4 linked regions of the Homo sapiens genome follow. The protein of the gene in region 2 interacts with the protein of the main gene of each other region in a biochemical or structural test. Each region holds a gene or a part of one and is shown on either strand. Other genes may lie near its edges.

The links.
Region 1: the proteins of POU1F1 (region 2) and ETS1 form a complex in vitro, tested with the Homo sapiens proteins (one study listed by IntAct).
Region 3: the proteins of POU1F1 (region 2) and NR1I2 form a complex in vitro, tested with the Homo sapiens proteins (one study listed by BioGRID).
Region 4: the proteins of POU1F1 (region 2) and PPARA form a complex in vitro, tested with the Homo sapiens proteins (one study listed by BioGRID).

What each region holds. Positions count from the first base shown.
Region 1 is NC_000011.10:128,479,019-128,487,102, forward strand, and holds part of ETS1 (protein C-ets-1), read right to left. Parts: intron 7,129-8,084; coding exon 7,051-7,128; intron 6,054-7,050; coding exon 5,805-6,053; intron 1,434-5,804; coding exon 1,173-1,433; intron 1-1,172. UniProt on the Homo sapiens protein: Transcription factor. Directly controls the expression of cytokine and chemokine genes in a wide variety of different cellular contexts. May control the differentiation, survival and proliferation of lymphoid cells.
Region 2 is NC_000003.12:87,273,585-87,281,653, reverse strand, and holds the start of POU1F1 (pituitary-specific positive transcription factor 1), read left to right. Parts: upstream 1-5,069; 5' UTR 5,070-5,191; coding exon 5,192-5,333; intron 5,334-8,069. UniProt on the Homo sapiens protein: Transcription factor involved in the specification of the lactotrope, somatotrope, and thyrotrope phenotypes in the developing anterior pituitary. Specifically binds to the consensus sequence 5'-TAAAT-3'. Activates growth hormone and prolactin genes.
Region 3 is NC_000003.12:119,777,538-119,785,463, reverse strand, and holds the start of NR1I2 (nuclear receptor subfamily 1 group I member 2), read right to left. Parts: upstream 3,364-7,926; 5' UTR 3,164-3,363; intron 2,755-3,163; exon of another isoform or gene 2,707-2,754; coding exon of another isoform or gene 2,612-2,706; intron 1-2,611. UniProt on the Homo sapiens protein: Nuclear receptor that binds and is activated by variety of endogenous and xenobiotic compounds.
Region 4 is NC_000022.11:46,152,744-46,160,827, forward strand, and holds part of PPARA (peroxisome proliferator-activated receptor alpha), read left to right. Parts: intron 1-8,084. UniProt on the Homo sapiens protein: Ligand-activated transcription factor. Key regulator of lipid metabolism. Activated by the endogenous ligand 1-palmitoyl-2-oleoyl-sn-glycerol-3-phosphocholine (16:0/18:1-GPC). Activated by oleylethanolamide, a naturally occurring lipid that regulates satiety.

The sequences.
Region 1 (8,084 bases), on a different chromosome or scaffold from region 2:
CAATGAACTGCACTAGGAGCTACATGGAATGCAATATAAGAGAGATACTCCTGATCTTTGAAGGAGGAGTAAGTTTTCAAGCATTTGAGTTGTTCTCAAAGGTCACTGGTTTTCTTCATAAAAGACCTAAGGCTTCCCTGAATGCAAAAATAAGGATTCAGCATACTCTAAGGATCAGAGAGACACCTCAATAGAAACACAGATCTTGCTGTTTGTCATCATCCACACAAAGGGTCCCTACATGAAAACATATCCAGGGTGGAGAGAATTATAAGAGAATAAAGGCCTAGACCACATCTGAGTAATCAAAGCTACTTTAAAATAAGCTCTACTCACAACACACTTTCTAATTTTTAGAAAACACTACAATCTTACAGAGAGATCTGATGATTAACACATTAATGCTCCTTGGCTATTTCTCAGATATACTCTCCACATGTTTTTCTGGTTAAGTAGCATGATATGCTACAACCCATTTGAAGAAAGCATTGTTTTGCTCTACTACCAGAGTCTCAATCAAAGTTCAAGCTCTCAACCTACATCTTCCTTTCTCTATGGCCTTTCTTCACCCATCACTATCATAACTATAGCTTTCGCTCCTGGAAGAAAACTGATAATAAAGCCGAGTAAGAGAAGGGGCATTCTCTATAGGCCAGGATGGATCTGGACAGGGCGTAGTGCCACTGAGGATACTGTTCCCACATTTGAACAGCTGGCCTAAGGAGAACCGTGCTGCAGAAGAGTCCAGTGCGGAGGCCATTCAGTTGTGCCTTTGAGAGATGCTGCTGCTGATTTTGTATTTAGAAAGACCTCCCAAGAGCAGACCAGGAAAAATCCCCTGATGCCAGGCCACTAGATAGAGTTTCCAGGAACACCAGATCATTATAGTTCCCTTCCCCCAGACATGGAAAAACACCCAAAATGTAAGTTTCCTACCATTCTTGGAAATGATCCCTTTGAAGAGAATGATACTATTTGCTTCCAAAAATCAATGGCTATTCACAAGCAGAGTGGCTGGAGAGAGACTAAAGAATTCTTAGAGAGACTTCTCCCCCGTGCCCTGCAAAAGGGAGTCTCTCGTCGTCTCTGGTCAGAGGTGCAGAGTGCCTTCCAGGACCCCACCCACAGAAACGTGCAGATGGAGTTGGCCTAAGCAGCGGGAGGGCGCCTACCTGTGTAGCCAGCTAGGGCAGCAGCAGGAATGACAGGCTTGTCCTTATTGAGGTCAGCACGGTCCCGCACATAGTCCTTGAAGGTGCCCTTGGGCTTGTGGTTGGGCAGGGCAGCCGGATAGTCCTCTGAGTCGAAGCTGTCATAGGAGGGAACACGCTGCAGGCTGTTGAAAGATGACTGGCTGCTCCAGGACTGGGTGAGGCGATCACAACTATCGTAGCTCTCTATGCTTTCAAAAGAGTCCTGGCCCCCGAGTTTACCTGGAGGTAAAGGAGGAGGTAGGAAGAGGACAGGGGGAGGAGGGAGTGGGAAAAAAAAAAAACTGTAAAAACCCTCTTATGGAGGACAGATTGCTAATCAGATCTGCAGGAAGGACGGAAGAAGGGAGAGGCGAGTGGGAACAGAAGCTTCAGGGGTCATGGGTTTACTCTGAGGAAAGGGGCTGCACTAGGCCACCATCCGAGGGTCCACGGCCACTCTGCTGCCTGGTTTGAGAACTCCAAGTACAGAGATTCAGAGTCAAACGTTGCTCACATCTGTCGGAGTAGCGTTTGGGTCCTCAAGAGTTCTAAAGCCAGAAATCTAGAAGCTGAGGATCACACATGTTATGATATGATTTCTGGCTGATGTCGTAGGCCCAATGAATAAATGAAGAAATCAGAGCAATGTCAGGCTGAATTCCCCACTCCAGCTCAAGCCAATGAGATGACTTCAAAAGGCCCAGTTTGGAAAACATTTTGGTCATAAGAAAAAAGAATCCCATTAGACTAAGAGCAGATTAGCCTGTTTTGACCTTGGAACTAAGTGCTATTTTTTAGCATTTTTCCCAAATACTATTTTAATATGAAATACATGTACTGACCCTATGCCTTTTCAAATAGAGTAAGATGGTGTAAGATGCTTTTCCCAAGAGATTTTTTAAAATCACACACACTATCACTCTTCTAAACAGAAAACCATATTCTTTATCCTCTCCAAGTAAAATTATGTACTTGAAATTTAAACTTCATTGGAAAAGTGTAGGCAATATTTAAAAGGTTTATTAAAGAGTTAAGGTCCACAGCAGTGTCAGAAATCCTTTACTGTGTGAGTTGCTTAAGGCATTCTTAACTGACCACAAGATCATGCAAGTTCATTAATTTCCCAAACCAGGTTATAAACAGCTGCTATGATTGCACAATAGCTCCTGGAGAAATTTCCATTGGCAAAAATGCCACTAAAAAGGAGGCTAGCAAAAAAAAAAAAAAAATAGTTTTGGAGGAAAACAAATGAATCTAAGAGCGAAAAAGGCTCGCAGGAATGGTTTTTATATGCAACTTTCAGATACTTTTCAAGTAACCTAAGTTAAATCATAGGAGACTAGATGGTCACCTCAATTCAGCACAGGCCAAAAGGCAAAGGGATGTGACAAATGTTTACGGAGAAATATCCGTAAGTCAACTCTTAATTGTTCAGGGGTGGTTGATCTATAAATTTCAAATCCCAGAATAAGGCTGACTTATACAACTTCATATTAGTGTGCCTCCAGTGTATTTTTCCCTCCATGACAGCGGAGATTGGTTAAAACAATAAACATCAAACATGAACAGATGCCCAAACCTAAATTAAATATATAGGAAAATATGTTGCTCCCAACATTGTTTAAAGATCCGGATAAAATGTATTCGGTTGAGTGTGTACTTTTTGTAAAATCCACTGCTGTGGGTTTTCTCTACATCCTGACCCCCTCTGGAACTGCTTTAAACAGAAAGGTGGTGTCATCCGTTTCATCTCATTCCTTCCTCCACTCATCCATTCAGAGGAGGGTAATCTCTGGAAAGCAAACTGAAGAGCTTCATGGAGTTATCAGCCCTGCCCACCCAGTCCACTAGCAAAAGGGCACCTCTTCATTCTTACTAAAAATGAATATATATTTCTTTATAATTCTTAAAAATTCTTTCCCATTTACCCACCAGAAAAGTCATCTTTTTCACCTTTTTAGAGATCATTTAATTTTCTTTCAAGAAATTCACACTAAATGATTTAAGAAAACAGCCTACAACCAGAATGTCAAAGCCTTGTTTTAGCAGAACAGGAAATTCTGTGGCGTCTCATAAAAAGGTATTTGTTCATACCAGCTACTGATCTTCATGGTCACTTATTTTCTCTTTGAGACAAACATACCAAAAGCCTAAGAAGGAGAATTTATATTTTCATCAACACCGCACCAAGTCGATAGTATTTATGCTAAAGTCTCTCTGAAATGATTCCATTTCTATCAGCCAATTTTATACTTGGAGAAAAAGGACATCAGAATTTTCACAAGCAAGATAGTAGAGTTTCCAAGGAGTCCCACTAAGCAAGGGGACTAAACCAAGCCAGAACCAGTCTCTGGCAACCCCCCAAACATGAGGCAAATGCAACCCTGTTGAGAGTTGTGGTTTACAGCGGTAGGCAGCTTTCATTTTAGCTCGATTTCACAACCCTGGTGCTGGGAACCTTCATTTACGGGTATTTTCTCCAAAAATGGGTAGAATCCAACTGGATTAGATACTCAGTTATGCTGCTGCGCTCATGTAGGGAAACCTGTGTTCTCTAAACTGTCCACTAGCCAGCCTTTCTGAGAAGGGCCTCGGCGAGCTCCTTCCAAAGCTATCTGAGTCCACCAAACAGACCTCAGAGCACTCAAAACAGAAGATGCGGCAGCACCCAGCCACCCACTGAGTAGACTCGTACAAAGACAGTCCTTAGGGCCCAAATAAGTGGGGCATAGAAGCACTCTGTACGCTGTAATGCAGCCCGTGAATACTGTACTATGGTTAGTATAAATAACAATCAGCTAACAGTAATGCTTTCGGTCTAGACCAATCACAGCATCTCAGAATCAATTGGCCCTTTGCATAGGCCCTGTTTGCAGCACTTCTAACATGCAGAAAACAGCCCTGCACAAAATGGTCTTCCCCTCAAGTTTCTGTGGCCTGAACTTGGAGGGAGGGAAGAAGAGTGGAGCCAGAAAGAAATACCTCATGTCTCCTTGTAAGGGTCACTTTTGGTCCACAGTCATTAGTTTGGGGTTGGAGGGGTGGTAGGGACCAAAACCAAGAATGAAGAAAAGGAGAGGGAAAGAGACAATTACACAAATGCAAAGCCAGATGCAATTTCAAAACAATGTGACAGGAGATCGACCCAAAGTTACAACATGGCTGAGCCCAAACCCACAGGCTTGGCCTCACTGTGTAGATGTACAGAAAGTCCCACAAGGAAGAAAGTCGTTTTAATGCTTTGACTCGCCTGATAAAAAAGAAACACATGTACACACACTTGTGTGTATGTATTTAAATAGACATGCACCCAAAAATAAAAAAGAGCCAGAAAGGGGAAGGCCGACTGGTCCCACCCATCCCCTTCGGTCTGAAACACTAACACCCTGGGGCCTTAAGAAGGAAGATTAGGGGTTCTGATTTTGCAGGGACTTTCCCTCTGCAGGGCTTGTTGGTGATCCCTAGGCCTGCTAGGAGGAAGTGTGAGTCTGAATACTCGAAGAAGACGACAATGGGCATGACCCATGATTCTTCAAAGTAAAGGTACCATTGGGCTCTCCTCCAAGAGCCTCACAATAGGCACCGCATATGGTCAGTCATTGAGCAGAAATCACTAATAGGCCAGCCCCAGCCTGACATCTGACCCAAGCCCCGCTTGATCAGCTTTCTCCTGTTCCTCTTCCCATTTATAATTCTTTCCCATTTACCCACCAGAAAAGTCAGGTTTTTCACCTTTTTAGAAATCATCTAGCTCTTGCTAAATAGACAAACCCTTTCTTACAATAGATTGCATTTTTCTCAGAAACAAAACAATCTGGACACTTTACTAGGTAGGCTGTACCTCTGAGTGTTTATGTCCTGTTCCTAAAAATTGGGTGCATTTTACCTTTTTTGCTTTATGTCACCCAGCTCTATTTTTAAACACTTTCTTCCCTGACAGTGAATATTTTATCACTATTATAATAGTCACGTTAACAAAACTACCTTCTTTTGGAAACCCCTGGCCACCTCCGTCCCTGGTCCTCTAGCTAAATACACACTTCACCACACTGCTGATGACTGGTTCCAAATAAACCGTTGGTTAACCATCTTGTATCTTCCCAAACCGAAAAAGTCACAGGAGGCTAAAGATCCCAGGCTGGCCAGCAGAGGTCATTCCAGGTACCCAGCTAGGATCTACAGTCAGACCCAGGAGTCCTCTGGGAGGAGCACCAGGACACATGCTAAGCTTAAGGGTTTTCCAGGGTGGCCACTTGAACCATTTTTACTTGATTATGTCCTCCTCAAGGAAAATAGAGCATACCTTTCAAAATGACCAAATTCAACTAGAGTTATTGAGTAAAACATTTTGCCCAAGTAAGATATTTAATTTCTTAGATTGCCTGATTTTGATTTCACTGTGGACCCCATGGCCTTTGTCATAATAATGGACTTGGCTAAAACACCACGATGGAAAGTTCTTAGTATCTGGACACTCTAAGATGGGAAGGCTGAAACTGAGGAATCTACAGGTCTAATAAATAAGAAAAAAAAAATGGAACCTGAAAAAAACTCACAAAGTCAGGTAATTCTTGTAAACCCAAGAGCTTTTAGAGAAGAAATATGACCTACCACGACTGGTCCTCCCCATGCACATGTTGTCTGGGGTGACGACTTCTTGTTTGATAGCAAAGTAGTCATTCTGCAAGGTGTCTGTCTGGAGAGGGTCTCGGAGAATGACCGAGGGGTAGTCATTCTCATACTTGAGGGAGAGGAGCTCTTCCGAGCTGATGGGATGGAGCGTCTGATAGGACTCTGTGATGAAGCTGGGCTCTGAGAACTCCGATGGTGGAACACACTGGGCATGCTCAATACCATAGCCTGGAAACAAAGGGTTTGCAAGTAAAGAGAGGAGAGATTTGTACCTAAAATAAGCAGTTTTCACCATCTACAGGGCCCTATGATGTGGGACAAGCTCCTTAGAGAATAAGGGAAAATACTTTAAATCAGAAAAGCTTGCATTTTTAACCTTGTCCACTACTAAACAGCTTTAGCCCTTGACAAGGTAATTGATTTCCTGACTTCATATCCTCATCTCTAAAATGGGGGTGATTGCGATTTTTCCCGGAGCACTGTGATGAAGATGAAATGAGGATAGAGGTCAAATGCCCACCAACATTCCCCACACAATAAGCTCTTGACACAGAGTAGTTAATATCATTGTGTCACTGGAATAAAAATTGTAATAACGTAAAAAGATAAAACGAAAAAAATAAAACCTGTTTCATATTCCCTGTAAAAGCACAGCCATCAGATAAGATGGTCCTATATCTCAGAGCTTACATTAGTGCAACAGGCCTACATTCATTGTTTCCCTCAGGCCATCTCTTCAGTATGGTTGGGTATCTTACACGAAAAAGGAGAAGACTGTATTTCCTATAATAGAATTTGAAGCTGCATAGCACACTCTTAAAGAAGGATTTTGGAGGAAATGCTGTTATCTCCACTAGTAAAAAGGAAAGAACAAAGACCAAGATCAAATCCCTAACCCAACCCTCTTTTGGCCATCGTAGTGCACAGTATCAAATAGGAACAAAAGTTTAGGGGTCTAGTTGCAGTCTCTCTGCATGACTTTCAGGTGAAGACATCAGAGAAGGATCCTAGTGTGTAGGAACTTGGTAGGTTAATGAAACATATATATAGGTTGAAACTTTGTGCTTTGTGGAAAATAATAAAATAAAGTAACAAAGAAGAGTCTACATCTAAGAAGATATTATTTTTGATAGAATTACCATGAAGGAGCCTGAGATTCACTGAGATAGGGGTCTTTTCCTAGTTTGCTATTATCATGAGAGAAGAGGGGTAGAAATGAACTTACTAATGAAGTAATCCGAGGTATAGCGGGATTCTGGATAGGCTGGGTTGACTCCATTAACTTGATATGGTTTCACATCCTCTGTAATGAACAGATAGGGAAGGAACAAAGAGGTCAATATTCAAGTCATGCTTGGCCTAAAAGGATCTTGGATGCAAAGACCACAATGATCTCAACCCCTTTTCTAAGAAATCTGCATACTCATTAACTGGGTTGGTATCTGAGTCTGTCCTGACTGTGGCCTTGTCTAAAGATGAGATCAAAAAAATATGACTAAGGTTATTATTTCAGTAGCTGCAAAATGGGATTTAGTATCTTGGAAAGAGAATCCATGAGTAATCTCTAAGGGCTCAGAAGGCATTCAGCATTCATTCTCAATGCATTCGTGCTGCGTGTATGTCGACCACACTATAGCCAAAGGCTTGAGTACATCCCAGGTTAGCAGGATCAATCCCCAACCCCCAAACTAATCAATTTCAAAATTTCTCAAAAATATATTGCAGTCTTTAGGCCATAGATTTTACGTTCTCCATTTCCTCTAACAGATGTCTGGTTTTTGTTTTGTATTTTTCCCATTGCCCTCAGGTTTCAAGTTCAGGCCCAGACAAGAAGCAGGACACTGGTAAGGTGACTCCATTTGGTGAAATGCGACTGCGCTTGTGTCAAGGGAGAGAAGAGCAACCCAGTCAAGCTCCTGCCCAGATGCCAACTCCCCTAGGAAAAGGAGAGGAAGGGAGACGAAGTGCACCTGCGGACAGAAAGCTCTGAACGACCCTGCAGTAAGCCTGGGATCCTCTAATTACCCTGGAACAAATGCCATGGCTCCGATTCTTGTATGGAGTAGTCTGATTATATTTCACCATAAGAATCTGACATAGAGTATGGGTTTGGGTTTTTCCTCAGGTATTTGATAGCTTGTTAGGAGCAAAGTCTGATGGGAAAACAAGTTTATGCCTGCACAGAAAAACAGTTCCCAGTTGAGATAAAATGATTAAACTTTGCTTTAGCAGTTTATCAGATTGAAACATCCCCGTACC
Region 2 (8,069 bases):
GTGACAAACAAAAAGTCTACATATGAAGATACACAGATGAGATACAGAACTAGACTTAGACAAATATCAATATCTATATAGATTTTCCTTATATAATAGAGGACAGTATTAGGTAGCTTGCTCAGGCTTTAAGTGGCTTATATTACTACACCAGCTTCACCACTTACTGAATGACCTTTGGTAAGAATTTATCTCAGTTTCCCAGTCAGTAAACTAGTGCCTATATCACTAGGTTAATGTGAAAATAAAATGAGATAATACATATAAAGCACATAGACTAACTATGCATAAACAATAGTTAAAAAGTTTTGCAATTAGTAATTGCTAACATTTATTGAAAGCTTATTACATGCCAAGTATTGTTGTAAGTGGGTTTAATATTACTATTATCTCCATATTACAGATAAAATAACCCAAAACACTAAAGGGTAAAATTACTTGTCCATCAATGTATAGCCACTAAGGTATAAAGCTTGGGTTTATAGCCAGACAGTTTAATTACAGAATCTATCTCCATGCTGAATATATATACTGCTTCTGAACTCACAAAAAAAAAGTAGAAAAATTAGAAAACATAAATATGAAAAATAGAGGAAAAGAGGTTTTAATTTTATATATAACCCAGAGATAATTAGATTTGAATATTAATTCTTAATAGAATTTTTCTCTGGGGTTACATATTTTTCTCTTTTCTTTTTTTCTTTTTTTTTTTTTTGAGACAGAGTCTTGCTCTGTCGCCCAGGCTGGAGTGCAAGGGCGCCACCTCGGCTCACTGCAACCTCCGCCTCCCGAGTTCAAGCGATTCTCCAGGCCTCAGCCTCCCAAGCAGCTGGAATTACAGCCCGCCACCACGCCTGGCTAATTTTTGAATTTTTAGTAGAGACGGGGTTTTGTCATGCTGGCCAGGCTGGTCTCGATCTCCTGACCTCAGGTGATCCGCCCGCCTCGGTCTCCCAAAGTGCTGGGATTACAGGCATGAGCCACCGCGCCCAGCTATTTTTTTAAAATTATACTTTAAGTTCTGGGATACATGTGCAGAACGTGCAGGTTTGTTAAATAGGTATACACCTACTATGGTGGTTTGCCGCACCCATCAACCCGTCATCTACATTAGATATTTCTTCTAATGCTATCCCTCCACTAGCCCCCACTCCCAGACAGGCCCCGGTATATGAGGTTTCCCTCCCTGTGTCCATGTGTTCTCATTGTTCAGCTCCCACTTAGGAGTGAGAGCATGCGGTCTTTGGTTTTCTGTTCCTGCGTTAGTTTGCTGAGAACGATGGGTTTCCAGCTTCATCCATATCCCTGCAAAGGACATCAACTCATTCTTTTTTACGGCTGGATAGTATTCCATGGTGTATATGTGCCACTTATTCTTAATCCAGTCTATCATTGGTGGGCATTTGGGTTGGTTCCAAGTCTTTGCTATTGTGAATAGTACTGCAATAAACATACATGTGCATGTGTCTTTATATTAGTATGACAGGATTTTTTCTGGGGTTATATATATTTTTCTCAAGATGTGGTTTTTTTTGAAACTCAGAGTATTTAAAAAAATCAATCCTTTGCTTAATTTAAGAGGAAATACGGTGAATAAATCAGGCTAAAAACACCTGGCGAAGACTTCTTTTCTGCATATTTTCTTTTATCATCTTAGATTGAAGTAGAATTTTCTTCTTATTTATCTGGTAGTTTTCAAATTGAGCTACAATTTTCATTATTATCTAAGTGATTATAAATGAGCTCTAGAAACATACAGAATATGGCAGCTTAAAATGTCAATAGAAAATTTCTTAAGGTGCCAAAATAACAAAACAAAAGTAAAAATAAATAAATAAGCCTTTGGATAAGGTCAAATTTTAAAGTCTGAAATCATTAAAAATGCATGCAAAAAATGAACCACATGTTTAGCTCTTACATAAAATACTATGTATACCAAGGTCCAGCATAAATTTAAAAGATGAGACATTAAGAAAATTTTAATCATACAATGATCAGAGCAATGAAAATTAAAATTTTCAGTGTATTTGTAAAAGACACAAATGGATAATAAAATTGAATGGCCTTTAAATAAAAGGATAAAATATAGAATCTGTTAATTAACAAAACGATAAATACAGATAGCAAATATAAACCTGAAAACAGAGCATATCAGCAATCAAAAATGCAGATTAAAATATTAAAATATTATCCTATCAGATTAATAAGGCATATATATTTACACATTATTACTAACAATGAGAATGCCAGACAATTGTGGATTTTACACCACTAATGCTAGTGTAAGATGGTATAAGAGCATCAGTCATATTTTAAGGGTGTCTTCCAAGACAATGTTCTATCCCTCCTTGTCTACAAACATCTGAATGTATCCAGGACTATCCTACCCATTCATAAGTGTGGACCACTGGGAACCATCTTTATACTTCTGGAACTTACCAAAAAGTTATAGCCAATAAGAGTATTTCTCTCGGCCCAGCGCATGGCTCACATCTGTAATCCTAGCACTTTGGGAGGCCGAGGCGGGTGGATCTTTTGAGGTCAGGAGTTCGAGACCAGCCTGGCCAACATGGTGAAATCCCATCTGTACAAAAAATACAAAAATTAGCCAGGTATGGTGGCAAGCGCCTGTAATCCCAGCTACTTGGAAGGCTGAGGCAGAAGAATCTCTTGAACATGGGAGGCAGAGTTTGCAGTGAGCCAAGATCACGCCATTGCACTCCAGCCTGGGTGACAGAGTGAGACTCCCCAAAAAAAAAAAAAAAATTATCATAAATGTCGACTGAGAAGCTACAAGATAGTCTGTTTGCCTCCTTGAAAGTTTAAGGCATGATCTAGAGATTTTTGAGGTGAACATGGATGGAGAATCAGCCTAGGCTGTTCTATAGAGAAGGAAAAAAGTTTGAGACAAAAAAAAAAAAAAAAAGCAGGTAGGAGAGTCAGAGAGGTGTGCCCTCATTTTCTATTCAGTCTGTCTCTATGGCCTGACTTCCTTCTTTTCTGTGAGTGCCAAGAAACTCCTGTGTCTCCTGATAATAAACAATTCTTTTTGCTTGACTTACTCCTGATATTTTACATCAAAATCATAATATAATTAATTATTTGAAAATGCAAGTTAGTAATGTTTTCAAGATGTTAAAAGTTTGTAAGACTTAAGCTTAGTAATTCTACTTCTAAGAATCTATCTTAAAGGGGTACATTCCAGATAATCCTATAGATATATTGTATCGTAGAAGACTGTAATGGAAACATTTATTTCCTGGCTTTACCTCATTTTAACAGAACAGGTGTTTAATTTTTAAAAATGATTATGGAAGAAATTCTACGATTGCAATTTAAAACTTTTTAGATATCATGGTAAATAACTGGGAAAATTTTATATTGTTTGCTAGGCAGGTTTTATGGTACTTCATAAAGTATCTTCAGTATACTTCATAAAGTATATTTTTCACATACTTTACCAACATATTCCAATGACTTTATATAACAATAGTAAAATTATTAAGGGACATTTTCAAATTACATTTTCTATAAATATCATTTAGCTTAATTTTTAACATACATGATACCCAATAAACACACTTTTATTTAATTTTCTTAACAGAAACTCCAAATAGACATACTGAAAATCACCTTTTTGTATATGTGAAGTCTGAAAATGATCAGAATTCTGCAAGGGTATAATAATGCTTTTGATTACTTGAAACTTTCTCTCATTAGAAAAGACTAATAAAGCTTCAAAGATATAGAATTCAGAATGAAAAAATATGTCATTTTTAGAATAAATATTTTCATTCCATATCTAATGATTTAGGCAAGCTTTTACATATTTTCCTTCAAAATATCAGCTGCTTACTGACAAAGTGTTCAAGTTTTTGAAAATGTCTTATCAATATTAACATGAAATTTGATACAAAGCAACCAATTCCAAATTATCTTAAAACATTCCGTAGTACAAAATTAGTGTCTACTCACATCAATAATATCTATTCCTGTTCGCTTACTTCTATTTGCTATATTACCTTAATATACAATACATAAATAGTATTTTATTTACTCATTACATACTCATAAATCATGATCATTGTAAAGTTTTGATGCTGTTATTTATCTTTGAAATAGTTGGCTGTAGCATATTATTTTTTTCATTCTCATATAAAGTCAATATATTTTGTGTGAGAAGTTTGCATCTAGTTAGCAACTACCATGGTTATCTCAGGCTTTGTGGCACAGAGTCTAGCTTAGTGAGAATGGCAAGGTACATAACTCACATAGATGTTGTGAGATTTGCATGACGTAACTGTATAAATACCTAGAATACTGTCAGCATCTAGTAACAGCTTACTAAATATTGGGTTCTTGAGTGAATTGAAATCGAGGTAAAGATAACAATTACCCATATCTTAGTTGTATTTAACTTTGGTGCAGTAGTGGTTGCGGTTCTTGCCATTAATGCAATCACTTTTGCACCAACCTATCATTACTACATTTTATCCAATTTTTTTCCATTTTTCACTTATAATATAGTAAAACTTATATTGGTTGTCATCGTTTTTAAAAGCTGTGCATTTTTGAGTATGAATCATTAATTGACAACATATTTTCTCATGTTTAGTATTATATGCTTCTCTCATAATCTTAAATATTGTTTCTTAAAATTATGTATAATACTATGCACTTCTTTTGTTTCATGTTTTATCGCAGATTTAATGAGAAGTTGTTTAAAAAAATCTCATATTTATACATTTGCAATTGTGTTAGTAGCAAAAAGATACCTACTATTTTTCAATTGATTGTGGCATTATTTTTTTGAGGGACGTGTTTTCAAAATTGTTGATTCCTCTCTAAAAGGTCTGAACTACTGAAGTTGTCAAATAAGGTTTCAGATTTCTCCCTTCCCCTCCATCTATACCCCAGAATCAGCTTCCTTCTCTGCCATGGATTATGTTTGGGGTAAAAAAGGAAGACGGTTCAGATTGATAAAGCAATACTCCTGGGAAAAGACTATTAACATGTATAAAGGGATTTCCTTGCAGTATAAATACTAGCGCGCACCCTCCTGGTGCCTCAGAGCCTTCCTGATGTATATATGCAGGTAGTGAGAATTGAATCGGCCCTTTGAGACAGTAATATAATAAAACTCTGATTTGGGGAGCAGCGGTTCTCCTTATTTTTCTACTCTCTTGTGGGAATGAGTTGCCAAGCTTTTACTTCGGCTGATACCTTTATACCTCTGAATTCTGACGCCTCTGCAACTCTGCCTCTGATAATGCATCACAGTGCTGCCGAGTGTCTACCAGTCTCCAACCATGCCACCAATGTGATGTCTACAGGTACTGACTCCTATGACAGTTTACATATGACCGGGCCTAAATATTTCAGAATGAATGCTTTGAATCTTGATAGTTAATAATCTCTTTGCATCTTTCATTTTACCCCTCCAATTTAATTTGTCTTAAGTGAAGTAAGCATTAAGCATATCTAAAAAGCCAACATGCCAAATAAATTTTAAAGAAATATTAGTAAGTGTAGTAATTTAAAATCACTGTTGGCTTTGTTGTAAGGAAGAAAATCTGTTTTCTACATAAGAAAAGAATGAACTTGGACATTTTAAATCTAAAAACCTTTTTAATGGAAATATTTATAGAATAAGGAGCAAATGAAATGAATATTATAAAATAACAATATTTAAAAGGTGCTACTTCTTTATCTTAAAGGTTTATTCGGTTGTTAAATTACATTTACTATCTAAAAACAGCTATAAACCTTATATTAAACACAACAGAACAATCTGAATATCAACAACAATGGATTTCATAGAATAAAATAGAGTTTTAATTAACATATTTTAGCATAAGATACAGAAATTATAGCAAGAAATAACATGACATTTAAAGCCCATTAACTAAGGTAAATTTTCTCAAAATTGCATTCTGAAGAGACTTACTTCACTTCTAAGTTTTAACATTTATCTCACATAACTTTTTAGAACAAAAATTAAACCTAAGAATTCACAGGCTCAACACAATCAGCCAAATACATATGTTTTGCCAGTGTGTTCATTCTTTATGCAGTAACAAAGTGTTTTAGAGTTGATTTACAAATGGAGAAAGACTTGAATTGGGTAAATTTCTTCCATTGAATAGCAATATAATATTCACTTTCCACTTGTTTTAAATGCAATTTTTCTCATATTTAGGAATGAAATTATATACATTTAGAAATCAAAGTTTGAGTTGATACATTATTCTGATTTGAAGGATTTAAGCTCTATCTTTTGTTATTATTAAGCATTTTCTAAATACATGCGTAAGTTTGGCACCAATCTTCTGGTGGATTTTAAAGAATCTAGAGGTCAGATATTTAGACTTTGGTAAAATCATTTAATGTAGAGATTTTTCAATATTACCTTTTAAATTAAATTTCAGGAATCCGCCAAAGATTTCTGTAATTTAATTTAAAGGGTAATACAGGAAGTATCCTCCAACATAATTTTTGGAAGACACAATAGTTTTTATCAAAAATATATGCTATAAATAAATCTAAGCAATTACCACATAGCTAATCACATATTTTAAATAGTAGGTCATCCTATAGATTGAGAATAATGAGAATAATACACTATTTCTGTGTTTGAAGATAATTTGGCCAGCATGAAAATACAATTCAGAATCGAGGTAATAATCTAGTAAAATCTAATTTTATACTCAAAATGCCATTTATTTACTTTAAAATAAGTAACAATTTATTTAGTAAATTAGCCTATCCTGTATTTAACTTCCTAAAATCTGAAAAGCAAAAATTATTTAAGCCTTAAAATTAAAAAAGAATTATAATTAATAAAAGTGACCTACAAATGTTTTAAATGATAATAGCATTGATTTATAATTTTTTAATGAAATTTGAATCATATACATCTAATTGTCTAAGGAACTATTATAGAAACACTGACTTTAATGGGAACACTTGAGTATTAAATATGTTTAATGATAATTTGCTTAATTTTGGAATGCACAGTAATGCATTATATGTAATCATTATATTGCAAAATGACTTTAGTTCTTTTGAGCTATTAATTATAAAATAAAAATGTATACAGATTTTTAAAAATTAAAGATTTTTCTCTATTTTAAAATAATTTATTTTACTTTATGAAGAAAGGCATGTCTTTAATCACTAGTTTGTATATTGGTATTCTCAAAGGATTCTAACCATACTTTATAATATCTCATTTATTCAAGAAAATTAATTTATGAAAATTAACCAATATATTCAGAATATGAAGGAAAAAATTGAGAAAATAAAATATATAAGGAAATATTGGTTTTATTGTCAATATTTTGTGCTCCCTATCAACTTGATGATTTGTGTTTAAAACTTGATAAAAGTCTAATAATTCCAGTTTACTTCCAAAATACACATTGATTTCCTGAAGCATATAACCATTTATGAACGGTTATGTTTATGTACGGCTTTATGGCTTTATGGATATTAAGTCACTCAATGAATGAACTCATTTTTTGACCAGCTTTATCATTAGAATGGTTGTATCAATTGTGTATATGCAGACAACTAACAACCTCATGGTTTCAACATCAAAATAAATAGATCATATATTGTTACAGGTTTTTAATAGCACTCTGAATGCAGTGAGATTTTTATGATTGTATCTAATAAAAGGCTACTTGCTCTGCCATTTCCACTTTGATGAAACAAATTTGTTAGACAAATAAGCAAAAATACGCTGTTCAAGAGTGAATTTCTGTATTCATTCATACAGACTGCTTTATAATACCATGCAACACAAGAATTTTAAAGGACTATTCTTCTAGTCGGCGAGTTGCAATGTCTGCATTGAACAGAACCAACAAGCATTCTGCAACTCCCAAAGGGCCAAGGTCTAAATTGGTCAGTCACCCCTTCACGGGGCACTCGTAGCCATAGCACAGAGCACAGGATAATTAATGAAGTCCGTTTTGATGATTTATTATCTCGTTACATGAGACAAACTTTGATCCCCCCTAGTTTTAACCTACTCGTCAGAGAACTTACCCAAAATGAGAAAAACA
Region 3 (7,926 bases), about 33 Mb from region 2:
CTTTGAAATTCTTAACAACAGGCCTGCAATCAAGTAAGTTTGGGTCAGGATTCTCACTATTTGTGTGGCCAGTAGACCCCAAGCTTATGGTGGTCCCAGTTAGTTCTGTCCTCAGGTTCCTGGCAAAAGCAAAAATAAATCCTCTAGAGGAAAACAATTTCAATCTCAACAAGTCCCAAAGAGAAGTTTCCAAATGAGTTCATAGTACAAAATAAAAATGGAAATCAGGAACATGACAAGAATTCCTAGGACATCTAAGTGTTTGTAAAGAGTATCTCCTAGAATTGTGCAGTATAGAACCCACACAACTGTATGCATCACTTCTGAGACTATCTACTTTCATGGCTACTACTCAGCATTATGCTGAATGGCAAAGAAAAACCAATAAGACACAAAAAATTAAGGTTTGTAAAGATTGGAAAGGAAGGAGCAAAACTCTTACTATATATAGATGATATGTTTGTCTAACTAGAAATTCCAAAGGAATCAACTGATAAGCTTTTATAACTATTAAGAGAATTCCATAAGGTAACTAGGCAAAATATCAAAACACAAAATAGATTTTCTATTTATTGGGGGAAAAAATCAAGTAGAAAAGGTAAACATTATAGTGGAAATTGGCTCAGGAATAGGAAATAAATACAAAAGGACACAGAAATGGACATGTGTAAGTGGGAATTTAGTACATGATAGAGGTGATATTTCAAACAAATAGGAAAAAGATGGACTTTTCAATAAATAGTATTGAAATAATGTATTGCAATAAGTGCCAGGTGAATAAAGACTAACTTTTTAAATAAAAGTATTACAGGAAGGTGCACCAAAGTAGCTTCATAATTTTGGAAGTTGAGAAATCTTTTAAAAATCAGCCTCAAAGAGTAAAATCCAGAAAGAGGGAAACTAACAGATTCAACTACATCAAAATAACAACAACAATAATAGTAAAAATTTCTGTTGGCTAAAAAGTATGATTTAAACAAAGCTTAGAGAGAATATTACACACATATCAAATAATTTGCATTGAGAATAAATAAAAAACTCCTACAAAGAAGAAAAAAAATCCGACATAAAATAAGCTAAGGATATGAATAGGTAATTTAAGAAGAGAAATACAATGGCCAAGAGGGGTCCTATAAAAAGAATGCTCAACTTCATTAATAATCAGGGAAATTAAAATATTGAAATAATGGGTTGTCATTTGCACTAATTCAATGGAAAAAATAATAAAATACTGAATAAACAGCAAGCATTGTTTGGAGTGTGGAGGAACAGTAACTATCCTTCTCTGCTGGTGGGAGTACAGTCGGTTCGGGTACTGTGGAGGGCTGTTTGGCAGCCAAAAATTGAACCACATATATCCTGTGATGTGGCAATTCAACGTCTTAGTAGTTCCTCTAGTGCAATACGTGCACATGTCTAGAAGCAGACAAACACAGTGAGGTTCATTGGTAAGACTGAAAAATTGGAAAAGCTTAAATATCTATCGAAAAGAAAACGGCTAAATAAAAGAAGTGTACACTGTGAAATATGACGTAGCAGTTAAAATAAATGAAGTAGAGCTCTATACAGATATGGAAAGTCTCCAAGTCTTGCTATTGAGTGGAAAAACAGAATTAGAACAACATGGCAACAGATAGGTTTAATAGTCCATCTATGCATAGATGAACACACACACAGACACAATGGTCTGGCAGTAAATATATCACACTAAGTACTTTTGGGGAAACTGGAGATTAGGATTGACAGAATGGCCAAAGGTGAATTTAGGTTTATCTATACTGCTTTCTCATTTTCAAGGAGCATGAAATCATGTATTACTTTATAATTTAAAAAGTTATTACCTAAAAAACCTAGTCTAGTCAGTTTTGTGGTTGTCTTGGGTTTATTCCATAATAATTTTGGAACAAGTTGACAGCTTTTAGATCAGGAGTTGGCAAACTTTTTCTGTTAAAGGCCAGATAGTTAATATTTTAGGCTTTGTGGGCCATACTGTCTCTTTCGCAATTGGTCAATTTTGCTGACTCAATGAATCAGCTATAGCAGGCACTATTCCTCTCCCACATGGCCTCTAATGATATGGCCAGAGTTGAAAGGATGTTGTAGGGCAAAAACAGCCATATACAATACATAACGAATGGGCATGGCTGTGTTCCAATAAAGCTTCATTTATAAAAACAGCTGGTGGGCCAGAGTTAGCCTGTGAGCCATAGTTTGTCAACCCCAGGTTTAGACTTTTATGACATAACTAAAATATTTTTAAAGCGTATTTGTGTACCACAAAATACTTTTTCCCATTAACCAACTGATTAAATAAGCCTCTGAGGCCTCCCTTAGCATCCTTTCAACTCTGACCATATCATTAGAGGCCATGTGGGAGAGGAATAGTGCCTGCTATAGCTGATTCATTGAGTCAAGACTCAGTGGCCTCAGAGGTGTCTGTTGACCTGTCCTAGATATGGAGTGGCCTTAAAGCAGTGCCTCTGGCCATAGCTTCAGCCGAGCTGGGCTGTAAAGTGGAGAGAAGAAGGACCTGGTGGCACTGACCACATGCAGGCAAGACTCGGTTCTGTGGGACAAGGTGCCCTTTCAATAGTAGAGGTAGAAAACTCACTGGTTTGAAGCCAACTCAGCCGCAGCACTGTGCAGGGGTATGGCAGGTGCTCTGAGGGACCCCTCCTTGAAGTGGTGAGTCCTGGTGACTGTCATGCTGCTGTCCTTGGCCTCAGGGGGCTGCCAGCACTAACCCAGCAGGCCAAAAGGAATCAGGACTGAGTTGATCCCAGTTCCCATAGTCCCCAGCTCCCACAGTCCTTGGAGGTGGTATTTCCTGGGTCCAGGGACTCCAGCCCTGTAACAGGGAGCTGGTTGTATGTGTGACTTGTGGTAACTCATGCAGTAGTTAAGGCTTCTCCTGTGGTGATTTTTCTAGGAGGCTAGTGCAGGACCAGAGAGCATCAGTAATGGGGCTCAACATTAAGTGATTGTTTTCATGCTTTTTTTTTTCCACCCTAGAAATGAGGAGACAGCAGCAAGGCCAACATGATTCACGACCCACTATGATGCTGACCTCAAACAGAAGGTATATTTGTGTTCACACACATCTTTTGGCTGGAGCTGAAGGGCGGTCAGCCCCCAGCAAAAGAGAAAGAAAGAAAAACCATACCTGCTTGGTGGTAAGTTCTTTGCTCCGACTTCTCCCCTGGGGTCCACTTTGAACAATCCGGTGCAAAGGATCGATCAAGGAGTAGCTTTACCAAGGAGCCGCTGCCTTGTTCAGGACAGGAGTATTAGCTTATTCTCTTGCTTTTCTCACTGTGAACACTTGGCTTGCAGGCTGAGGCCGAGATTCCCACTGAAGTAAAGGCAGTGCTTCCTCTTCCCGTCCTAGTCATAGGTTATGATTTCCCCGGATATGAGACAATCTTGTCTCTCACCTATATTTCAGTCCAAGTCAGATGTAGGCACTAAGCGGCTCCATTGCCCCTCCTAAGTCCCAAGTCCAGCACTTGAACTAGCAAATGAAGAGATTACCGTATTTGTTCTCATTATGTTCTCCCTACTTTTTTCTTTCAGGTCTCTTCACTACAAAAACACAGGAAAAGGGGAAGAGAGTGGCAAATATCCGCTTTGTCTAAGTAATTCTGAGTGCATTTCATCAGTCTGAGGGTCTCTGTCCTTTACCACTAGGGGCAACATTAATTTGAACCTAGATCTCCTTATACTTCCTCCTTTGTTGAAACCACCTCCCTGGATAGTGTTACTTGATGTGAAAGTGAGCAAAGTATTGATTTATGACGGTGCCAATCACCAGCATGGTTATGTAAGAGGGGGGCAGGCACACAGGGAGAGGGAAAGGGTGTGAGATGAGGGGGCTGAGCACAGTTCTCGAGAATGTGACCCCACCACTTTGATCTCAGAACAGAAGGCTGACCAGGAGTGGGGAGGATGGACCAGCTGAGGGCTCTTTCCTCTCCCGGGTCCTGCCAGAGGGGAGCTGAAGAGTCCTCACTCTTCAGCCTCAACCTTCTTATTCCCTAGCAGCAGGTGCTCCCAAGTGAACAGAATCAACAAAAGCCGAATGTGGTGGATACCAGGATGTGTTTCTTCTACTTGCTTTGTTTATAAAGATGCTTTATGGCAGGTGAGGGGAGTGGAAGTAACTGCTCCTACCTAAAAGGCAAACAAGTACAAGCCTCTGGCAACAGTAAAGCAGGGGCATGGGCCCCAACAAGAGAGGGAGAGGGAGACCACGATTGAGCAAACAGGTAGAAAAGAGAACCTGGGATTGCCAAAAAATGACCACAGTTGTCTTCAGGTGAACATTTGGACTTCCTTACATTTATTTATTGACTTAAGTTGTTATTATTTTGAAGTACATGCTTTAATCCAGCCCTGGTGAGAAAAGCCAGAATATCTAAGTATGATTTGTTTGTTTTGTTTTTAATTGGTTTCTTCTCTATCCAATTTGCACTTCCCAAGGGATGAGAAAGACTTGAGGCTGGGATTTCCTAGGGGTTGACATTTCTCAAGTGGATGCTTGCCTTGCTGTTTTCAACCAAGCGCAGAATGTAAGGTGCTTACACAGCTCACTGCTGGGGACTTACTGCCAGCAGTGGGGACTGGGACCCACAGCCATAGAGCTCTGTCCTTTTTCCAGTCACATTTCTGATTATCCACATGGGATTCTGCTAGGGCTAGGAGGTATTGGATTACAAATCCCACTGGACAGAAAGTTGACTTGGGCCTTAGGCAGGGAGGACCTAGAGTAAGTGAAATATTGAATGTCATGAGGATATTGGAAAGAAAAAGAGTAAGTGAAATACTGGATTTCAGTACCAGTGGAAGTAGCCTGAACAGTGTGCTCTGGGGTAGGAGGACAGCATGGGGCTATATCTGGGGCCTGCAGGTCCCCTGAGAAACACAGATCAGAAGGCCATGGCTAAAGCCAAAGAGGGTGGGAAAGCTGGAAAGGGTTAAGAACTCACCCCAGGAAACTTATTTCCAAGATCAAAAGTAGGCCTTTCTGCACTGACAGGTATCTCCAAGTCCAGGGAAAAAAGGCATGACTCCAGCTCAGGTAGGCCACCTTGCCAGAAGTCCTTAGGTTATGGGTAACATACGTAGCTTTCATCATCTCTCAAATCCCTTCTGGCTCACAAGGGCCTGACCTTCTCTCTCTTAAAAATATAGTGAATTATTTACAGCAGAAACAGGAAACTAAGAACAGATTATGAAACCACTGAGGTAAAGGAAATATTCTCAGGTTTCTGCAGGGATCTTTGGGTCTCTTTTCCTTTGGGTCTGTGGTGTGAAGTCCCAGCTAGAAGACAGGAGAAGGCTGTAGGAGTGCCAGGCCTCTCTAGTCTAGCACTGCACTGTTAATATCAGACATGGCTCTATAGTGAAATGAGTTAAGAATACAGCCAGAAAATACACTCTCGTTCTTAAGGACAGCTTACTAATGCCCTCAGTTGAGGGCCAGAGTCACTCTCAAGCCCAGCTGGGAAGTCAGAGAAATTTGAGGCCTTGACCTCCATTCTATACTTTGCCTATTGCAGCAACCAGAAATGTAGAGCTCCTAAGAAACTCATCAGAGAAAAGCAGATCTGATCAGCCTGAAGAGTTTCTTTTTTTTTTTTGAGACAGTGTTTTGCTGTGTCACCCAGGCTGGAGTGCAGTGGCATGGTCATGGCTCACTGCAGCCTCAACCTCCTGGGCTAAAGCAATCCTCCCACCTCAGCATCCCAAATACCTGAGACTACAGGTGTGTGCCACCATGCTTGGCTAATTTTTTTTTTTGTTTTTCTTTTGTAGAGACGAGGTCTCATTATGTTGCCCAAGCTGGTCTCAAACTCTGGGGCTCAAGCAATCTGTCTGCCTTGGCCTCCCAAATTGCTGAAATTACAGGCATAAGCCATTGTACCTGGCCAGTTTCCTCAGTGTGAATTCATTTAATGTTTTACCCCTCTCCAGAGAATATTAATATTTAAAAAGAGGAACAGAGAGAACAAAATAAAAGAGTGATGCACTGATGATATAAATTCAGGTGGAATCTGAGGAAAATAGGTGTTTATCAGCCAGTCACATGGTCTTTCTCAAAAATCTCTTAGCCTCCCTCTGGGGTGTGCTCAGGGGCACTTAGGGCAGGAGCATGGAGGTGACACTCTGATCCCCATGAGGCAGTCTTGGAGGAAACTTCTCCCTTTTCATCCTTAAGTGGAGGTAGTAGAAGTTACCCAAAAAGGCTAGGAATAGGAATCTTCTCTTTGAAAGCGGTTTCATTTTATCACAAGTAGAAGCAGTGACACAAAGTTTAACTTCCCAGAAATCGCAGATTCCAGCAACTGGAGGACCACTAAATTTGAGCACCAGCTGTTCCAGATCCTATAATTACTCTGAGGCTCCATAAATTACACTTGTGGTCAGAATTCCAATGTCTCTCTTAGAATTTTGGAACACTTTGTTTTCACCTCATTTGTAAATTACACTGCAGAATATGGTATCTGTGACTTCCTGCCTTAGTTGCTTATAAGCCCCCTGAGAGGAGAAGCCCTTATATCACCTGGTACCAATTGCATTTGGTGGCTGCTCAGTTCAGTGTAGTAATTCTTTTAAATATGGTTTTTACTAATATGCTTTAATAGAGTTCTGCCTTTATTGAAGAGAAGAAAAAGGACCACCTTGAGAGGACCTTCCCTGCAGCTAGCTCATGCTACTACTAAATGAAACTCATACTTACTTTTGATTTATTATTAAATGAGTTAGCTCTTAAATGTGTGAAACCTCTTTTCATTTTTAGGCTTTAAACTTGTAATGATGGCAAGTGTCATGATGAGGATAAATTACCCTTTGACAGCAAAGAGATAATTGGGTATTTGGTATATATGGAATTATCTAAAACTTATTTGGAATTATACATATATTTTCATAAATCACTATAATGTTTGAGAGGGATAAAGGGATTGAGGGGAAAAGGTGCAAATCTGGAATCTGGTAACACCGCAATACCTCTTCCCAGAAATATTAATATGACAGTTACCTTCTCTCAACAGCTGTTGCTGTCAAGTTTCTTTGCTCCACAATATTATATTAGAAACTCTTGAATAAAATGTAAATTGAGAGGTCATACAGGAAACAGCTGAGAGTCAAATCATTTCTCAGAAAAATTGTTCCTATTCTATGAATAGACATCCAAACACTGACCACATTTACATCTATTGTTTAGTCAATCAATTAGACCTGTTTTGTCTCTGTAAATGGAAACACAACACTAATTCCCAGAGCAGGTATTCAATAAATTAATTCAAATATTTAAGTGTCTTAAAATTGCTAGTCACATTTTATGTATTTATTTTATTTTTATAAGGTACAATTTATCAGTCTTTACTTTTTTTTTTTTTTTTTGAGATAGGATCTTGTACTGTTGCCCAGGCTGGAGTGCAGTGGGGGCAATCATGGCTCACTGCAGCCTCAACCTTCCAGGCTGAAGCGATTCTCCTGCCTCAGCCTTCTGAGTAGCTGGGCCTACAGGCACATGTCACCATGCCCAGCTATTTTTTTCTGGTAGAGACGGGTTTCCCTAGGTTGCCCAGGCTGGTCTTGAACTCCTGAATTCAAGCGATCTTCCCACCTTGGCCTCTCAAAGTGCTGGGATTACAGGCATGAACCACCACACCCAGCCAACATTTTTTATTCTGGTAAAAAATACATATAATATAAAATTAACCATTTAAATCATTTTAAGTGTACAATTCAGTAGCATTAATTATAATGTTTTGCAACCATCACCACTATTCATATCCAGAACCCCTTCATCATCCCAAATAGAAACTCCATCCATTAAGCAACTCCCCATTGTTATCTTCCTTGAGTCCCTGGTAACCTCTAATCTACTTTCTATCTCCATGAATTTGCATATTCTAGGTA
Region 4 (8,084 bases), on a different chromosome or scaffold from region 2:
AGGGACACTGGGGCTGATGATGACCTCTGCAACTCTGAAGCAAAAGTAAACTAATTGGCAAGTTGGGTGCGGTGGCTCACTCCTGTAATCCCAGCACTTTGGAAGCTGGGGTGGGCAGATCGCTTGAGGCCAGGAGTTCGAGACCAGCCTGGCCAACATGGTGAAACCTTGTCTCTACAAAAAAATAGAAATATTGCCTGGGCATGGTGGCGGACATCTGTAATCCCAGCTACTCAAGAAACTGAGGCAGGAGAATCGCTTGAGCCTGGGAGGTGAAGGTTTTAGTGAACTGAGATTGTGCCACTGCACTGCAGCCTGGGCGCCAGGGCGAGACTCCGTCTCAAAAATAAATAAATAAAATAAAATTAATTAACTAATTGACATTAGAAAAAAATGTTTTTTCTTTCTTTTCCCACATCCTTTTTTTTTTTTTTTTTTTTTTTGTGACAGAGTTTTGCTCTTGTCACCCAGGCTGGAGTGCAGTGGCATGATCTTGGCTCACCGCAACGTCCACCTCACGGATTCGAACAATACTCCTGCCTCAGCCTCCCGAGTAGCTGGGATTACAGGCACTCACCACCACACCCGGCTAATTTTTGTATTTTTAGTAGAGGTGGGTTTCACCATGTTGGCTGGGCTGGTCTCAAACTCCTGACCTCAGGTGAACCGCCTGCCTTGGCCTCCCAAAGGGCTGAGGTTACAGGTGCGAGCCACCGCGCCGGGCCCTTTTCCGACATCTTAAACGTAAAGTAGGAGACGTGTCATAATCATCGAATACTGCAGTGGTTTTCATTAGCTCCTGTTTGTCAAACTTATGAACAGAGTTTTAAAAATTGTGTATCAGCCGGGTGCGGTGGCTCACACCTGTAATCTTTGGGAGGCTGAGGTGGGCAGATGACAAGATCAGGAGTTTGAGACCAGCCTGGCCAATATGGTGAAACCCTGTCTCTACTAAAAATACAAAAATTAGCTGGGCATGGTGGCGGGTGCCTATGGTCCCAGCTACTCAGGAGGCTGAAGCAGGAGAATCTCTTGAACCCGGGAGGTGGAGGTTGCAGTGAGCTGAGATGGCACCACAGCACCCCAGCCTGGGTGACAGAGCAAGACTCCGTTTCCAAAAAAAAAAAATTGTATATGAGAGAGACAGAACTAGACAGAGAAGAAGGAGAAAATGTGTCTTCTTTATACACTATTTTGTAACTTGCTTTATCGAGTAGGTTATGAAAAATCTTCCTATGTGAAAAACATTTCTGCATCATTTGAAATGTCTATATAATATCCCATTGTGTTTAGATACAATAATATTTAGCCAATCTCTTTATGTGTATATATTTAATACAGTCATTCTATAAATATTGACTGAGTAGCTGCTGTGGGCTACTGTCCGCAGTGCTGAACAAGACAAGCATGAATCCATGAAACTGATTTTCATACCAGAATATAAAAAAGAAACTTAAAGATAATCCTCATCATGGTAAAAGATGAAGAACCTATTTTTGCCGGGACATCTTACTCTTTAGTAATTGGTGGCCAGTGTTCTTTTTCTTGCATGCTGTTTTGGAGAGTCTGTTTTTTAAATAAATATTTAAGTAGCCTGGGCGCAGTGGCTCACGCCTATGGTTTCAGCACTTTGTGAGGCCGAAGGGGATGGATTGCTTGAGCCCAGGGCTTCAAGACCAGCCTGGGCAACCTGGCGAAACCCTGCATCTACTAAAAATACAAAAATTAGCCAGGTATAGTGGCGTGTGCCTGTGGCCCCATCTACTTGGGAGGCTGAGGTGGGAGGATCCCTTGAGCCTGAGAAGTGGAGGTTGCAGTGACTGAGATGGCACCACTACACTCCAGCCTGGGTGACAGAGTGAGACCTGGTCTCAAAAAATAAATAAATATTTATGTAATCATCTTTAAGCAGTGTTTTTAATTTTATTTATTTATTTATTTATTTTTGAGACAGGGTCTCACTGTGTCACCTAGGCTAGAGCACAGCTGCATGATCACGGCCTATTGCAGCCTCGACCTCCCTGGGCTCAGGTGATCCTCCCACCTCAGCCTCCCAAGCAGCTAGGACCACAGGCACACGCCACCAGGCCTGACTCATTTTTGTATTTTTTGCAGAGACGGGGTCTTGCTATGTTGTTCAGACCTGTCTCAAACTCCTGGGCTCAAGCCATCCTCCTGCCTCGGCCTCCCATAGTGCTGGGACTAAGCCATGAACCACTGCACCCGGCATAAGTGGTCTTTCTTTAAAAAAAAAAAAAAAAAAAAAAAAAAAAAAAAAAAAAAACCACATTAATTAAAATATGTATTTGCTTATTATAAATATATTTGAAACATGCCAATTTTTCTTCTCTTTTTTTGCTCTATTGGTTTCTGTGTGTGGATGGATATATTTTTAATGGCAAATAGGATGAGTGTCTTTACTTCCAAGTAGTCAGTGTTTTTCTTTAATGTTTGTACTAATTTTGTCACATTGCAGTTAGAGGTTGTGGCCTGTCTAATTTCTGCTTTTTTGGAACTTGAGAGTCTCTGTTTTTATTTGTTTTTGGTAGCCTGGCATAGAGTCCATTTTTCTTTTCTTTTCTTTTTTTGAGACGGAGTTTAGCTCTTGTTGCCCAGACTGGCGTGCAGTGGCGCAATCTCAGCTCACTGCAACCTCCGCCTCCTGGGTTCAAGCGATTCTCCTGCCTCAGTCTCCCCAGTAGCTGGGATTACAGGTGCCCACCACCACACCTGGCTATTTTTTGTATTTTTAGTAGAGACGGGGTTTTGCCATGTTGGCCAGGCTGGTCTCGAACTCCTGATCTCAGGTGATCCACCCGCCTCGGCCTCCCAAAGTGCTGGGATTACAGGTGTGAGCCACTGCGCCCAGCTGTAGATACTTTTTAAAAAGGTATAGTTTCTGATTATGGGGTAGAAATGTGCTATGTCTGTCATTTCAGCCTTATGAATTGCCCAGAATAAGCTAGATCACCTTTAAGGCCATGTGGTTAGGGAAACTTGGGCACAGAATTTACATTTTCAACTTGGTGATAAGATGGGTTTAAGGTAAGAATCAAATAGGAGAAAGCCTTAGCTGTTCCAGCGGCCCATGTTTAAAAGAATGTGCTTCTTTTTCCAAGTATTTCTGCCGCTTGCATGCACTGAGCTTCTTTGGAAAGGAGCACCATGCAGGCATATTTTCCAGACAGGACCGGATTTGCTCGTTACTCAGAGGTGTGTGCATTCTTTGCTTTTAGGATATTTAATTAGCATCTTTTAATAGTGATATTACGGTGTCTTAAAAGTTTATGCATTTGAAAAGAAAAGAACTTACTCCTTGCCAGGTCTCAACCTATCATGGTTATCTTTGCAGCTGAGCTGCGTTGGTTTTGAGGCTCACATATGGTAAAAGTGGTTGGAAATCTGGAAATATTGCTGTGTATCTGCAAAGCAGCTTGATATAGTGGAAAAGGTATTAGGTCATTAATCATGAGATTTGGATTCTAGCCCCTTAGCTGCTGCCTGCCAGGCCTGGAGACCTTTGTTCTCTTCTTTAAACTGCTGCTTTCTCATCAGAAAATGAAGTTCCTCTCCATACCACCTCTCTGAAGGGCTGTGAAGCTCGAAGTGGCAGCTTAAAAAACTGCCCATCTCAGGAGGTGTCTTAAGAAGGAGGACATACCGCTGGCTCCTGCCTTTCTCACTTAGCCAGGTCTGATACCTGTGTTGTTTTCACTGTGGCCATTTTAGGATTTTTCAAAGGCTTTCAGAAAGCAACATGCTACCGTACCCCTTATACACCAAAACTGGTTTTCATTTTGGAATATAAAAGTGAGATTTCTCCACCAGTACAATAAAGTTGTTACAAGTGGTTCCTATGTGTTTGTTTTTGTTTTTGAGACAGAGTCTCACTCTGTCACCCAGGCTGCAGTGCAGTGGCACAATCTTGGCTCACTGCAACCTCCGCCTCCCGGGTTCAAGCAATTCTCCCACCTCAGCCTCCTAAGTAGCTGGGACTACAGGCACCCGCCACCACGCCCAGCTAATTTTTGTATTTTTAGTAGAGATGGAGTTTCACCATGTTGGCCAGGCTGGTTTTGAACTTCTGACCTCAGGTGATCCACCTGCTTCAGCCTCCCAAAGTCTTAGGATTACAGGCGTGAGCCACCACACCCGGCCTCCTGTGTGTTTTGAAGGTGATTGTGACCTCAGGTTTTGGCAGGGCTATACCTTGTGTTTGCTCTTACTCCAACTCCATGGCATACCTGGACCAGGCCTCTTCATCTTGAAGAGGGATCTGCTGAAATGCAGGCCCAGTGAATCTCCCCATGCCTGGACACAGTTCCGTCAAGCCAGGACCCGGTGCTGCCTGCACCCCTGTTTCTGTTAGTCTGACTGTCCTCGCTGAGTCTAACTCCTTGAGGGCAGAGAGGATGTCTTATTTATTTCTGCCCCGCTAGCCGTGTAAACTGAGTAGGTACTTGTAAATGTTCATTGAATAAGTACCTGATTAATAGAATTTAATTCAAGAAGAATGTATTGATGGGCCTGTGTGGTCACCACAGTACTGAGATGTAGGTGGGAGCTGGCTGAAGGGGGAGGCACCTAAACAGGAGTGCAGACAGCGGCACCTACGGATGATGGCCCGCTCCATCCCACCGCAGCGAAATTGTCCCAGACCTCTGCAGCTTCCCCCACACCTAGACTGAGAGAGAGCTCTTCTTCCTTCTGTAGGGAGCAGGTGTTTCCTCCAGATGTCCAATATGTACCTCCCATTACAGCGGTGTTAGGAAGGTGAGGGCTGCCGCTGAAAGGGTCCCCTTCATAATCATCACTAGATTTGGGGTATATTATGGATTAAATAGAATTTTTATAAGATGACCTGAGGATCTATTTAAATAAAATCCTCTTTCTTTCTGCAAGATCATGGATTTAAATTCAACACAACTGACTTCATAGGGAAGGGGTATGGTGAAAGGGAAGTGAGGTGGGCAGCACTGATATTTAACAAGGTGAGGGTCCTTCTCCTGCTCTGACTGTCACATTAAAATATTCCCAGGAGAAATTGGAGAAAACTCAGATGAAATATCGTCTGTGTTCCAGGAGGCAGGACTCATCGGAATGCTTTTATTTTGCTCCATTTTAAGAGATTTGCAGATAAAGAGGAGTGAAGATTTCTATTCAGATTTACTTGCTTTATATTTTAACTTATAGACCACAAGCCAACTTTCGAAAGAGCATCATTTTGAATAGTAAGAGTTAGGAAGGCAAATACAGAAGGACTAATGGCTTCCAAGATTATGAGCTTCATAGGAATGGTTTGAGATGAGGCTATAGTAAAGCAGAATATTGAAGTTCCCCCACCCCCTTTCATTTTTCATTTTTCATTTTTAAGAGTGAGCGAGGCCAGGCGTGGAGGCTCACACCTGTAATCCCAGCACTTTGGGAGGCCGAGGTGGGCAGATCACAAGGTCAGGAGTTTGAGACCAGCCTGGCCATCATGGTGAAACCCTGTCTCTACTAAATGTACAAAAATTAGCCAGGCTTGGTATCAGGTGCCTGTAATCCCAGCTACTCAGGAGGCTGAGGCAGGAAAATTGCTTGAACCCAGGAGTCGGAGGTTGCAGTGAGCTGAGATCGCACCACTGCACATCTCAGAAAAAAAAAGAGTGAGGCCCCAAGTTTTTTTGCATTTGTTTGTAACTGAATACGTCTGAAGTTATGTGATAACCACGCCAAGGTGACAAATTGCCAAGTTTCAGTAAAAGAGACCCAGTTATTTAGAGGTTGACACGTGGATATGTCCCTTTCTAAGAAGTTCGTGGTCAGCTTTACATGAGTATTTAAATGCGTGTTTATAATTCAGCAATATGGCTTGTAAAATACAGATTGCCAATCAAGTGACATGCAAATCTTGATGATCTGAAACAAGTTTTCTTCTGTTATCTATGGAAGAAATGGTAATAGGGATATTTAAGTGGGATGAATTTTTTGAAGCATTTTCAGGCAGTTTTCCACATGGAACAAAATAACATTGAGTGGGCTGCTAACATGAGGAACATATTGCCCTCTGCCTAGGATTATGAGTAAATTTGATAAATTCTAGACTGCAGTCTCATTTTAGCTCATTTTATGAGGCAGCTTGACAACTGGGATAGTGTCTCTTTTTTTTGTCGGGGGTGTTGAGGCTGGAGTCTCGCTCTGCTGCCCAGGCTGGAGTGCACTGGCGTGATCTCGGCTCACTGCAACCTCTGCCTCCGGGGTTCCAGTGGTTCTCCTACCTCAGCCTCCTGAGAAGCTGGGATTGTAGGCATGTGCCACCACGCCCGGCTAATTTTTGTATTTTTTAGTGGAGACGGGCTTTCACCATGTTGGCCAGGCTGGGTCTCAAACTCCTGACCTGAAGTGATCTGCCCGCCTCAGCCACCCTAAGTACTGGGATTACAGGCATGAGCCACCACACCTGGCTTCTGTTCTATCTGTGCATTGGGGATGAAATTAACACAAATGATGTTTAAAGAAAAAAATGCTCAGAGAAGTTAGAAATGTGCTTTAAATTGGAATCATCTCTTAGTATGTAAAAGTTTTTTGTAATAGAAACAAGCAGGGCAGTATTTGACCTGTTGACAGTGTCCTTGGACTTTACAATTTGTGAAGCAGCGTATTTTGCTTGAGTTGTACGATTGTCGTTTTTTTCCCCCCACTTTGACAACTGTTACAGAACCTGTCACCAGATACAGGCAAGGGAGGTTGGGCTTCCCATCTCTGCACGGCTTCCCTGTGATTCACAAGCAAGCAATCAGAAGTGCACAAAAGTTTAGAACGCGATTTTCATTCTCTTCTTTCCTTAGAAAAACTCGCTTTGTTAGCCTTTTCCAGAAAGGAAGGCACTCAATTGTTGTAATACTCAAATCATAAAAAGAAGCCTAGTCTAGTCTATTCAGCAAGGTGTTCTGAAAGAGGGAATTTTTTAAGTTCAATTATGCGAAGATCTTGAAGGTGGGACTCAAAGGAGAGGGCTATCCTGGGAAGAAGGCTTTGGAAAATGAGAGGCATGAAGGGGAGAGGGTATTTAAATGTGTTTGAAGCCAAGGATCCTTGAGAGAAAAAGCTGGCACTAACAGCGTTCAAAGAACTTGCGTGACAAGTGATGACTAATGACACTGAGGGTGGGTTGTGGGTGCCTAGTGAATTCCTCCGAAGCCAAGAGAGAGGTTTCCAGACCCAGGGAAGAAGGTGTGTACACCCAGAAGTAGTGTAGGGACAGAGATTCCGATCACAAGCTGTGACTGGAAGACGCCGACCACCACTGCAGCAGCCTGAAAACCACAGTCTTGAACCGCCAGCGAAGGGCTGGGAAGTGCGGATCCAGGGCTGGTGCACTGAACCCAGAGGAGCAGGCTCCCATTCCCAGCTAAGGGTGGCAGCTGGCGGGGATCTTTCCAGCAGAAAGCTGTAAGTGGAAGCTTTCAATTCAGAGCAGTAGCAATGCCTTCAAAGTCCCAGGCTTCACGTGGGAACAGAGAATGTGAAGAGTATTTAGCAGGATGCCAATATAAGAAATCTATATTGGTGTTCGTTTGTTTGTTTTTGAGATGGAGTCTCGCTCTGTCACCCAGGCCGGAGTGCAGTGGTGCGATCTCAGCTCACTGCAATCTCTGCCTCCTGGGTTCAAGCGATTCTCCTGCCTCAGCCTCCTACATAGCTGGTACTACAGGCACGCGCCACCATGCCTGGCTAAATTGTTGTATTTTTAGTAGAGATGGGGTTTCACCACGTTGGCCAGGCTGGTCTCAAACTCCCGGCCTCATGATCCGCCCTCTGCAGCCTCCCAAAGTGCTGGGATTACAGGCGTGAGCCACCGCACCTGGCCCAATATTGTTTGTTTATTTATTTCTTGACAGGATCTCACTCTGTCACCAGGCTGGAGTGCAGTGGTGTGATCTCAGCTCACTGCAACCTCCACCTCTCTGGCTCAAGCAATCCTCCCTCCTCAGCCTCCTGAGCAGCTGGGACTACAGGTGCACACCACCACACCCAACTAGATTTTGTGTTTTTTGTAGAGATGGGGTTTAGCCATGTTCAGCTAGTCTCAAACTCCTGGG